Linked DNA regions of Homo sapiens. The protein of the gene in region 2 purifies or fractionates together with the protein of the main gene of each other region. This does not show direct contact. Each region holds a gene or a part of one and is shown on either strand. Other genes may lie near its edges.

Region 1 (3,656 bases), on a different chromosome or scaffold from region 2:
CCCAGAAAGGCAGAGAGCAGAGTTGGAAGGGACAGCAGATTCTGACTGGAGCCCTTTGTTTCATCGGCATCCAGGCCCGGGGAGGGGAAGTGACTCTGCCACTGTGCTGGAACTGAGGCTCCAGGCTGCCTGGCATTGGCCCTTTGTGCCATGCTTGGTGGTGGGCAGCAGGTTATTGGATAATCACAGGCACTCCGACAAGGGGGTTGTTCTGCTTTGGTTGAATGTGACTTTTAGCGTTAATCATCCAGTGTGTGGAGCTGAGGCTCCACTTGCCTCTGTGCCTTGACTAGCACTTGCCCACCACCACAGGCGGTCCCCTTGATTGACCTAAAATCTCTCTTCTAGTTGCACATCATTGAAGTTGGACAGCCTGCAGCGGGAAACCAACCTTTTGTAAAGAAAGCAGTAGATGTGTTTTTTCCTCCAGAGGCACAGAATGATTTTCCAGTGGCTATGCAGGTACGAATGTGCTGCTCTCTAAACATCTTCATGTCCTAAAATCTACTCTAGCACCTCCCAAGATACAGGAGGCTGCCATTTTTAGTCTGCTTCTGCTGTCTCCTGCCACTGTGATGCTTTCAAACCCATTTAGAGGCCTAAGGCTTTGGCGTGTGAGCTGGGAAAGCCCTGTTCGTAGAAAGGAATGCCCGGCATGAGGGTGAGTTAGGGCAGCAGGAAGACGTTGCCAAGTCACACATCAAAGTCCTCAGCTCTTTCCTTCTTATTATAAAAGATTAGATGTTCACTGTGGTATGAGAATATTTAAAGAATAAAATACCTAATGTAGGTGACGGGTTAATGGGTGCAACAAACCACCAGGGCACGTGTATACCTGTGTAACAAAACTGCACGTTCTGCACATGTAACCCAGAACTTATAATAATAAAAAAAAGAATAAAACACTTATTTCCTTTACAATTGGCTGCCATTGAGGGAGCCTAGAGCTCCCAGGGACAGTCCTTTGAGCTGGCATTCAGAATGGCCCAGCCTTTGACACGCAGCCTCTAGTGAAACTAGGTAGTCCCAAGCCCCTGGTGGGAGAATTATTCACCTTTACATCAAGAAGGTTGGGAAAACACCTGAACCTGCATGTGGCATGTGCCTAGCCAGACTTCGAGGAGTTCGTGCTATGAGACCTGAAGTTCTTGTGAGGTTCCCTAAAACAGAAACACATGTCAGCAGGGCCTGTGGTGGTTCCGTGTGTGCTAAGTGTGTTCGTGACAGGATCAAGTGTGCTTTCCTTATTGAGGAGCAGAATATTGTTGTGGAAGTGTCAAAGGCACAGAGTCAGAAAACATTCCTCTGTAGATAAACCAGTTGGATGTAAAATATATAAGAAATCTTGGCCGGGCGCGTTGGCTCACACCTGTCATCTTAGCACTTTGGGAGGCCGAGGCGGGCAGATTGCCTGAGCTCAGGAGTTCGACGCCAGCCTGGGCAACATGGTGAAACCCCGTCTCTACTAAAATATAAAAAATTAACTGGGCATGGCGGTGTGCACCTGTAGTCCCAGCTACATGGGATGCTGAGGCAGGAGAATTTCTAGAACCCAGGAGGCAGAGAGTGCAGTGAGGCAAGATCACACCACTGCATGCCACTGCACCGCGGCCTGGAGCAAGACTTCATTTCCAAAAAATAAATAAATAAATAAATAAGAATAAAAATAAAAAATCTTACAATTTGTTTTATAAAAAATTTAGATCTATACCTTTTCTGAACAAAATTGGCATCACATTATATATGTAAGATTATATAATCTACTCTCCTTTTTACTCTTTTGTTCTCATAAAATATATGTTATCTGTACATTTCTAATAATATCAATAAATGTAACAGCAGGATTAAATATCACCTGAAATCCTAGCACTGCTGATAATTTGGCTACCCCTTTGGAAGTAACTTAACATGCATACATTTGTGCAGATTTATACAGATGGACTCTTATGAAAATGGCTCTGCACTAGCCTTGCTGCTGTATAAACTCCTCTAGCTATGTTGTAGATCATTCTGTTCCAGTAACATAATGTATGTATTTTATTGTCTGTGTCATCTGTTCTGTGGATTTGCTACAACTCATTTAAACAATCCCCTGTTGATTGGTATTTACATTTACAAGAAACACTATAAGGAACATTGTGCTCCATACATCTTTGTATGTTAGTCTAAAAGTCCGAGGATAAATTCCTAGAAATTAAACTGCTGGGTCAGGGGCACACTCTCATCACAGACTCTCCTGACCATGCTGGCCAGTTCACATTCCTACTGATGCTGCCGGTGGTAGCTGGACAGCATCCCATGTTGTGATGTCTTTCCCTTGGTTACCATCAAGGCAGAATTGATGTATCAGCCACTCATATGTATCCGGTTAATTGCCTTTTCCTAATCTTTGCATTTTTTTTCTATTGGGATCTTTTTTTAAAAAGTAGAGATGGGGTCTTGCTATGTTGCCTAGGCCAGTCTTGAACTCCTGGCCTCGAGCGATCTTCCTGCCTCAGCCTCCCAAGCAGCTGGGGTTACAGGTGTGTGTCACTGTGCCCAACTCCAGGATTTTTACCTTATTCGTAAGAGCTTTTTGTACTTGTAGAGTACTAAGTGTCTGATGTATTTTGAATATTTTTCCCAGTCGTAATTTGTGATATGTGGCACCTTATGGAAGTGCTGCATTTTTGTGTGGCAGTGGTATCATGTTTTGAGACTAATTCTGCACCTGAAGATGATCACAACATTTACCTATATTTTCTTTCATTCCTATCCTAATTGTCCTTGTTTTTTATTTAAAATCTTTGACCCATCTGGAATTTACTTTGATCTAAAGAGTAAGATAGAAATTCAGTTCTTTACTCTTACCTCCATCTCCAGATAGCTAGCTAACTATATTAATAATATATGTTATATATTGATTAAAGTGCCTATTTTCCACTAATATGTTACCTACTAATTATTTATTTTTCTAGAGTTGGAGTCTTGCTACGTTGCCCAGGTTTGACTCAAACTCCTGGGCTCAAGTGATCCTCCTGCCTTGGCTTCCCAAGTAGCTGGGACTATAGTCATTAGCCACCACACACTCATTCTTAATAAATTCTCATATATGATTCATTCTCTTTCAGGGCTCTTAATTATTTTCTCTCTCTGTCTCTTCCAGTGGTAAAATCATACTTCAAAAATTACTGTCTGTTTTAATATATATGTTTAATAATCTGGTTGGGCAAATGCATCTGTTTTTTCTCCCCAGCCCCTTCAGGTTTTCTTGTGTGTTAAATATTTTTCTGTAAAAGTTAATAGCATTTGGCAAAACTCAAAGGTTAATAAGTGGTGGTAGAAGGCATGCTGGAACATCATCTTGGCGTTTGAGGTCTTTGTCCAGAACTTTCCCCTTCTCTTATGAACTCACAGCTTGCTTAAAGGGGTTCGATAAACTGTGAAAGGATCGCTCTACCTGAAAGATAAATGGAGTAGCCTGAGTTTATTGGACCTTTATTTGAGAGTGGTTGGACAAAATATTGTCTTTAAAACTAATTCTCAATCAAGTACAACTTAGAATCCATGTCTCAGGAAAGCATTGCTCCCACCAGTAATCTCTCGGCCTGAGAAACTGAAGAATCCTTGTATAGCTAGGTGTGGCAGCTCACACTTGTAGTCCCAGCTACATTGGA
Region 2 (3,656 bases):
AGATTTTAATTTAAAATGCTACAAGCTAATATTGCAATTAGGATATGAATTTGCCTACTATCTATATAATGTTTAATATTTTTCCATATCAACATTTTAAATCACTAAAACAACTTTTTAAAAATCAAATTGAGTTATCAATTTTATTCTAAGAAAGTATCTGCTAACCACACCAACTGCAAAAACTGAAAAAAAAAAAATCTAAAGTGACCCAAATATATTTAACATTATACCATTAAAAAAAGATTCTTTTGAAAATGAGAAAGTAAAAAGATCTGGAAAAAAAACCCCTATTGTTCCACTAGCTGCTATAAATTCTGTTTAATTATTTTTGTGTCATTTTTAAAGCATGCTCCCTCCTATTACCTAAGACTGTTTGTCACTCTGCTTCCCCTGCTCCTGCCAACCCTGATCACATGGTCTCTTCTCTCCCCTCCTAGGACACTGAGCATCTTCGAGAATGTCACAGAATCACACACGTTGGGCCCATTACACATGTATGGTATGAATTATAATCATATTAAATGCTTTTCAGAAGTGCATCTCCCCCATCTCTTCACCCTTGGGCTGGGTCTTCTGGTAAAATCAAGAGGAAGGAACAGATTATGTTCTGGTACAGTAAAGTGAGAGGGTGTGTTTTTTTTTTTTTTTTAAACTAATAGTTAAATGAAAACAAAAATCAGATTAAAATATATTTACAGCAAGTTAGTACACTTCTCAAATTCAAAGTTACTCTAGTGTTTAGTAATCTTTTACACATTGTTCTACTTAATTTTATTCAGTAAACTTTGCTTACTTTTTGGATCTTTCAGCACTTACTGAAAGCCCTACTAAATTATCACAAATATAAATATATGGTGTCTACTGAATTAGTGTGCTAACAGAACTTCTATGAATTAAAATATATTTCATATTTACTAAGCACATTTATGCAAAGAAAACTCACTTTTAGGTTTAAATTTTCGTTCTATTTTTACTCACAAAATTTCTTACTTTTTTTGCAGATACTTTATGAATAAAATTAAAGCAGCAGGAATTTGGGTTGATGTGCCAGTATTTGTCTTGAATCAAAACTCAGTACATGTCTCCTACTACCTTTACCAGATAGTCTTATAAGAAACATAATCTTTTTCTTTTTCATAATTTGGGAGGAACGGAATCATTAGTAAAATTCTAGTATCTCTCAAACATCAGATTCAGAACTTGAAGCACTTGCTTTTCATGTGGGATAAGCTCATTACTAAATAGCTTCAAGTGTTTAATACGGAAAAAATAGGATTACTGAAAACCAAATTGGCTTTTCATAAGGTTTGTTTTGATGTTAACAGTAATGTCTAGGTTTGAATTCTGATTATCATAAATAGGATACTTTAACAATGTAGCATATATAGAAATCACTCATAAGCACTATTAACTGAAATGAATCACATGGCAGGGCTGCAAAACTTTCCAATTTACACCTGCAGATGTTACTTTGGACCAACTCTATTTTATTGTTCAAGCTTGACACAATACTGGGTAGGTACTGGGTGCCTATTACTACCTGATCTTTTTACTTTATTATTTGACTTGGGCTATCCCTTAGGGCATCACATACAAAATAGAAAAAACAGACAACACTGAAGTGTCAAACAGTTGTAACTAAAAAGGTAAATACTCATTGAGTCCTGGATGTTTTATATGCTAGCAAATAGGTACAAAAAGTTACAAGGGAAAGGAGGCGAGGATGTACAGGTGGACCCAGAAAAGTTAATGTCAAACCAATATTGGTTAGGTATTTAATTTTCACATACAAAGGGCAACATCACTATAGTCGAGTATGGAAAGAAAGTTTTACATAATCCAAAAGTGCCATAAAATATATAATCCTTACTTAGATTATTAGGTGCTGTCACTGAAAAAAGAAAAAAAATCTGGGAATAAATGTATATAGTTTCTTCATCTCGACCTTTTCACCAGATATAATTCTGCCCTCAGATGTTAACAAATCATTTCTTCAAGTGTATAAATCATATATCTTTAAGAATCATTTTATAAGTCACCATGACTAACAATAATAATTTTCTTGGCCTATCAACCTAAAGAGAAAAGAATTTATCATTTAAACCAGTACCTTAATATTAAATACATATTTCATAAGGATTTTGAGCCCAATTAATCCAATACCTTTAAAAAAAAATGACAGGACCATAAATCTGTTTTTATAATCTTCCAATCTAAACTCCAAACTAAAAAGTTATATACAAATCAAACTAGTAATAAATTGAAATTGTTTTTGTTTCAAACCCCCAAACTCTATATTTTGTGCTCTTTTTCTCCCAACCAGTATTTAATATTTTCAAAACTAAAACACCAACTACTTGAGAATCTTCAATGCCTATAAAGAAACTTAATTATGTGTTTGCATGTTTTAATAACAATTCACTTTTATAACTGGTGTTTACTGAAAACCTGTGAATAAATTACTGAGGTAGTTTACTGTTTCTTTAAAGGAACTTCACAAAGAATTCTGAGCAAAGATGTCCTCTTAATAATGCATATAACATATACATTCAGGTTTTCCATATCATCTTCTCTTAGAATAGTACATATTAGTAATGTGATAACTATGTCTCCAAATTCCATCCAAAAGTTGGTTTTAAGTAGAAGATGTTTTATTTTATGACTTATTAGAAAAGTAAAACATTAAAAAGAAAAACCACTAACCAATACTCCTCAGTGCTTGGTTTTTGGTCATTTTTTTATGCAACAGAATTAAAATATTTTCATTCAATTTTTTCATGATAGAATTAAAATTTTTTCATGCATATTATAAAGACTGCAATATGTACGCGGATTTTGATGCTCAATTCCACAGAAAGCTATGCAAGCAAGGTGGGTGTTTTAGAGATTAGACCATTTAGGTTAATATGGTTCATTTTCTCTCCTCTCTCAATAAAGTATATTACTAATCTACAGATGGCAGTTAAGTGTACTGGTTAAAAGCTATGAAAGTTTGGACAGGGGAAGTAGCAGCTCACTCCTGTAATCCCAGCACTTTGGGAGGCCAAGGTGGGCAGATAACCTGAGGGAAGGAGTTCAAGACCAGCCTGGCCAACATGAAGAAACCCCATCTCTACTAAAAAAAATACACAAAAATGAGCCAGGCGTGGTGGTGCATTCCTGTAAGTCCCAGCTACTCAGGAGGCTGAGGCAGGAGAATCACTCGAACCTGGGAGGCTGCAGTGGGCCGACAATGCACCACTGCACTCCAGCCTGGGTGACAGAGTGAGACTCCATCTCACAAAGAGAAAAAAAAAAAGCCATGAAAGTTAATTACCCTCCCTGAACCCATTAAGTGATGAAAGATTAATAATATAAAGTTCAGTTCGTGCTATATAGTAACTGCTCAATAAATGTTCAGCTCTTATGACCATTCATATTAATAATTCAACACCAGTTCCTATTTCAGCTGCTTTCTTTTATAACATGGAATCTTCCCCCTATTTTCCACATCTTAGAAATCATATTGGAAAACCTCCTACCTTCAAATTTTCAAAAGACTTTTCCACTAAAATACTAATGTGACTAAATATTTAGATCTGGAGAAGTCAGCCTTTATCTGAATGATGTTTTAATGAAATGTTCAAACCTGTGAATGTTCTCTGAAATATATC
Region 3 (3,656 bases), on a different chromosome or scaffold from region 2:
TACCTTGTGAAAATATATGTAACCCTGCGTAAGTTCATCTGATCCTTCTCCAGAGAAGATCACCACGCTATCTGTGTTCTTCCGAATATACTTGGAAATTAAATACATACCTTAAATGAGAGAGAGAAATTAACTTTAATGTCAACATAACCTTCCACCAAAAATGCCTTTGATTTGATTTTTGGAAATAATTGAAAGCTTTACTACTATACTGGACTTCATATTAATATAAAGTAGTTTCCACAATAATGACCTTGTATTTATAAGCCATTTATATGTACTTAATCCAAAAGTACTACTGTAAAATAAAATAACCCGGAACCATTTTGTCATTTTCTAAACAGGTTTTAAAATTCTAATGTTTTTAGACCAAGAATGTCCACCTCAAAACTTTGCTAAGCTGAACAATGACTCAAATACCTAAAAATCATGCCTTTCATAGTGGTATTATGACACAAAAATAAGAATAACCGTTTTGGTGGTTTAGTGTTAATTTTGATGGGTATTTTCCCCCTGCCACTCCCCATTTACCAGATTTCACATAAAGCTGGGGAGACTATATAAGTTATTAAACTTGCCTCCTTGGTCCTGCACCACATCTCTCTAAACCAGTGTTTCTTCTCAACCTTGTTTTTATTATCACCTCAGCTAGAGAGCCTTTTTAGACACTTATTTTCCTAACCTCACCCCAGCCCCATGAAATTCCAATACCAGAGCTATCCTGTCTATCTGCTTATTTACTGTGATGTTTTGGAGGGCCATAAACCATTGTAATACCTAAGATATTTTTGCCTTCCAAGGCAAGTCTCTCAAGGGAGGCAGTAGCATATAAAGGCTCAATAACACTGGATCAGTCTGATTTGGGGTATACTTCCAATCTCAGTAGATACATTATCTACAAGATAAAATTAGTATTGTTTGCAGAGCAATGATAGCTAGTGACTGGTAAGTTGTGTGATGGAATATATCTAAAATGACTATTTCTTATCAAAAATGCATTACCAAAAAGACCTATTTCCTCACTGTATATAGACTGTAGCCCAAGAAACTATAAGAGAAATGGGAGGTAGAGGGCAGAAAATATGTATCTGCTCCCTGGGGAAACACCAACAGTGACACCAACAATGTGGAGGTTGAACTACGTATTTACTATTCCCTTCACTCCAAAAGAGATTCAGAGAATTCTTAAGTGGTCTTAAATAATCAGTAACATAGGGATTTAATTTGCATTCATCCTTAAATAACATTTTAAAACTATGGCTTGAAATAATTTTTTTAAACCTTACATTTTTTTCAGTATTAAAAAAAGCTTTTTATTTAAGAATATCATAATACCTTACCTACTGAAGCACGAACTGTTGTAATGTCATAAGTTTCCAAGGAAAATATGACTTCATCCAGAGCCTGAATGCCTTCCTCAGAGTTAAAAAGGACTTCATAATGTTCACTTCCAATATGATCTGCCACCTTATTATATAAAGAAATACCCATTTACTTGTTAAAGAAAATAACTTCCCTTGAAAATCAAACATGATGGGAGTTCACAAAGCTTTATGAATTAACAATGGTGAAAACTAAACAAGGGAAAAAAAGAAAAATGACTTTACAGCCCACCACATACAAGCCCCATCCAGCACTGTTCCCTCGCCTGCTTCAACTCCACCACCAGGAAGTAAGTCTCCCCTCAGCTCCTCTGGTGCCAAGGCTTCAACCATTCTCCCAGTTGGCACCTCCCTCTCTACCTATTTTACCTAACCCACCTCATCTCTCTCTAGTCCAACATGGTCCCACGCTAAGCTTGGTCTTTTTTGGTCCTTCTTAAATGCCTAATTTTATATCCAGGATGTTATTCTTATATAGAATGGCCCTTCCCCTCATTCTGCTTTCCTTGGCTATTTTGGATTCTCTCGGCATTGATTACCTTGCACTGAGACTGCTCTCTAGCTTTTTCTCATCCATGCTACGAAAGTCCTCCATAGTGGGAACTAGGTCTCCCGCTCACTGAATACAGACAAGCTGCCCTCTGCCCACAGTATTCTAAATACAGTACTTTCAAAAATAATAATAACAGCTAACACTCATTAAGTACTTACTACATGCTAAGTTCTACCCTACTTACTTTACATGAATTATATCATTTCACCTTAAAATTTCCCCATAGCAGACACTATTATTTTGGTTACATAAATGAGTAGAGCCAGGATTTCAAACCACAAGTCAGGTTCCAAAGTCTGCAGTCTTAGCCATGATACTATGCCTTTACGTTTAAAAAAAAAAAAAAAAAAAAACGAACAAAAAACCCGTTTTTTTAATTTTTCAAGATGGGGTCTTGCTACGTTGCCCAGCCTGGACTTGAACTCCTGAGCTCAGACCTCCCCCCACAGCCTCCCAAGTATCTGGGACTATAGGTGTGTGCCACTGCACCTGACTTATGCCTTTACTTTCTTTTTTTTTTGAGACAAGGTCTCACTCTGTCACCCAGGCTCCCATAAGGCTAAGACTACAGGCATGCGTCACCAAGCCTGGCTAGTTTTTGTATTTTTTTGTAGAGATGGAGTTTCATTATGTTGCTCAGGCTGGTTTCAAACTCCTGACCTCAGGTAATCTACCTCCCTCAGCCTCGTAAAGTGCTGGGATTACAGGTGTAGGCCACCATGCCCAGACACCTTTACTTTCAAAAGAGCATACTTATCATCATAGGGTCTTTGTGAGAATTGCATGGGTCATAACAGATAAAAGTACACAGAGGACAGTGTACAACACAGTGCATATCCAACAGCCATTTCATTCTATTTTAATACAATCAATTTAAAACAATTGACCCAGTCAATACAGCAGCAGTAGAATCACCCATTATTGACTCCATTTTCATTCTAATAACAAGTCTACTCTAACTACACTACACAAGGGACAGAGACAGCACCTTACCTTTCTAGCAGCCAGTAAATCGGGGCTGTCTTCCATGCCAATTGCAAATGTCTGGAGAGGATACTGTACTTGGGCTTCTTTCAGCTGCTTCAACAGAGTGGCAGCAACCAAGCTGGAGTCCAAGCCCCCTACATGCAAAAGAGGAAGTGGAAGTGTCCTAGTTATGTGCCTTGCATAAGACAGGGACAGAAGATGTATATTCCTGATAAACACCAAGATCATAGTTTTACTATTTAAAATCCGCCAAGTTTTATAAACTGAAATCAACTTCAACAAGAGAAAAATATATAAACTGTGATAATAGTAGTATTTGAATTGGTTAAAAATCACTACACAGAATTCTAAAGAACATTCACTGACTCACTCTTAACACCAATAACATAGCTATAGTGTAACTCAAGTTGGAGTATGACTATGACTATTAAATACAGCTTATAAAAAATCATTTCCATCCTATAATGAAGGAAAGAGTAAATCATACAGTAAATATTTTATAGTAAAAACCAAAGGGATGGCTACAAATCATTTCAATTAAACACACATGAAATATAATTAGGTTTTTTTAATTGACTTCACCTGATAAAAGGCAGCCAATCCTTCTGTCTGTCATCAAACGTTTCTTTACAGCATTATTAAAAAGGATCCTGAGGTTGTTCTTCACAGTTTCTATCTCAAAACCTATAAACACAGCAGTAAATCAAACAGCTCCAGAAAATCTTGGGCTGGAT

Evidence for each region.
Region 1: the proteins of SNAP91 (region 2) and CLTCL1 purify together in Homo sapiens (affinity purification with mass spectrometry; one large-scale study listed by BioGRID and IntAct). This does not show direct contact.
Region 3: the proteins of SNAP91 (region 2) and ASNS purify together in Homo sapiens (affinity purification with mass spectrometry; one large-scale study listed by BioGRID and IntAct). This does not show direct contact.

Annotation. Positions count from the first base shown.
Region 1 is NC_000022.11:19,236,081-19,239,736, reverse strand, and holds part of CLTCL1 (clathrin heavy chain 2), read left to right. Parts: intron 1-348; coding exon 349-462; intron 463-3,656. UniProt on the Homo sapiens protein: Clathrin is the major protein of the polyhedral coat of coated pits and vesicles. Two different adapter protein complexes link the clathrin lattice either to the plasma membrane or to the trans-Golgi network.
Region 2 is NC_000006.12:83,702,523-83,706,178, forward strand, and holds part of SNAP91 (clathrin coat assembly protein AP180), read right to left. Parts: intron 405-3,656; exon of another isoform or gene 367-404; intron 1-366. UniProt on the Homo sapiens protein: Adaptins are components of the adapter complexes which link clathrin to receptors in coated vesicles. Clathrin-associated protein complexes are believed to interact with the cytoplasmic tails of membrane proteins, leading to their selection and concentration.
Region 3 is NC_000007.14:97,855,350-97,859,005, forward strand, and holds part of ASNS (asparagine synthetase [glutamine-hydrolyzing]), read right to left. Parts: intron 3,607-3,656; coding exon 3,505-3,606; intron 3,057-3,504; coding exon 2,929-3,056; intron 1,468-2,928; coding exon 1,341-1,467; intron 111-1,340; coding exon 4-110; intron 1-3.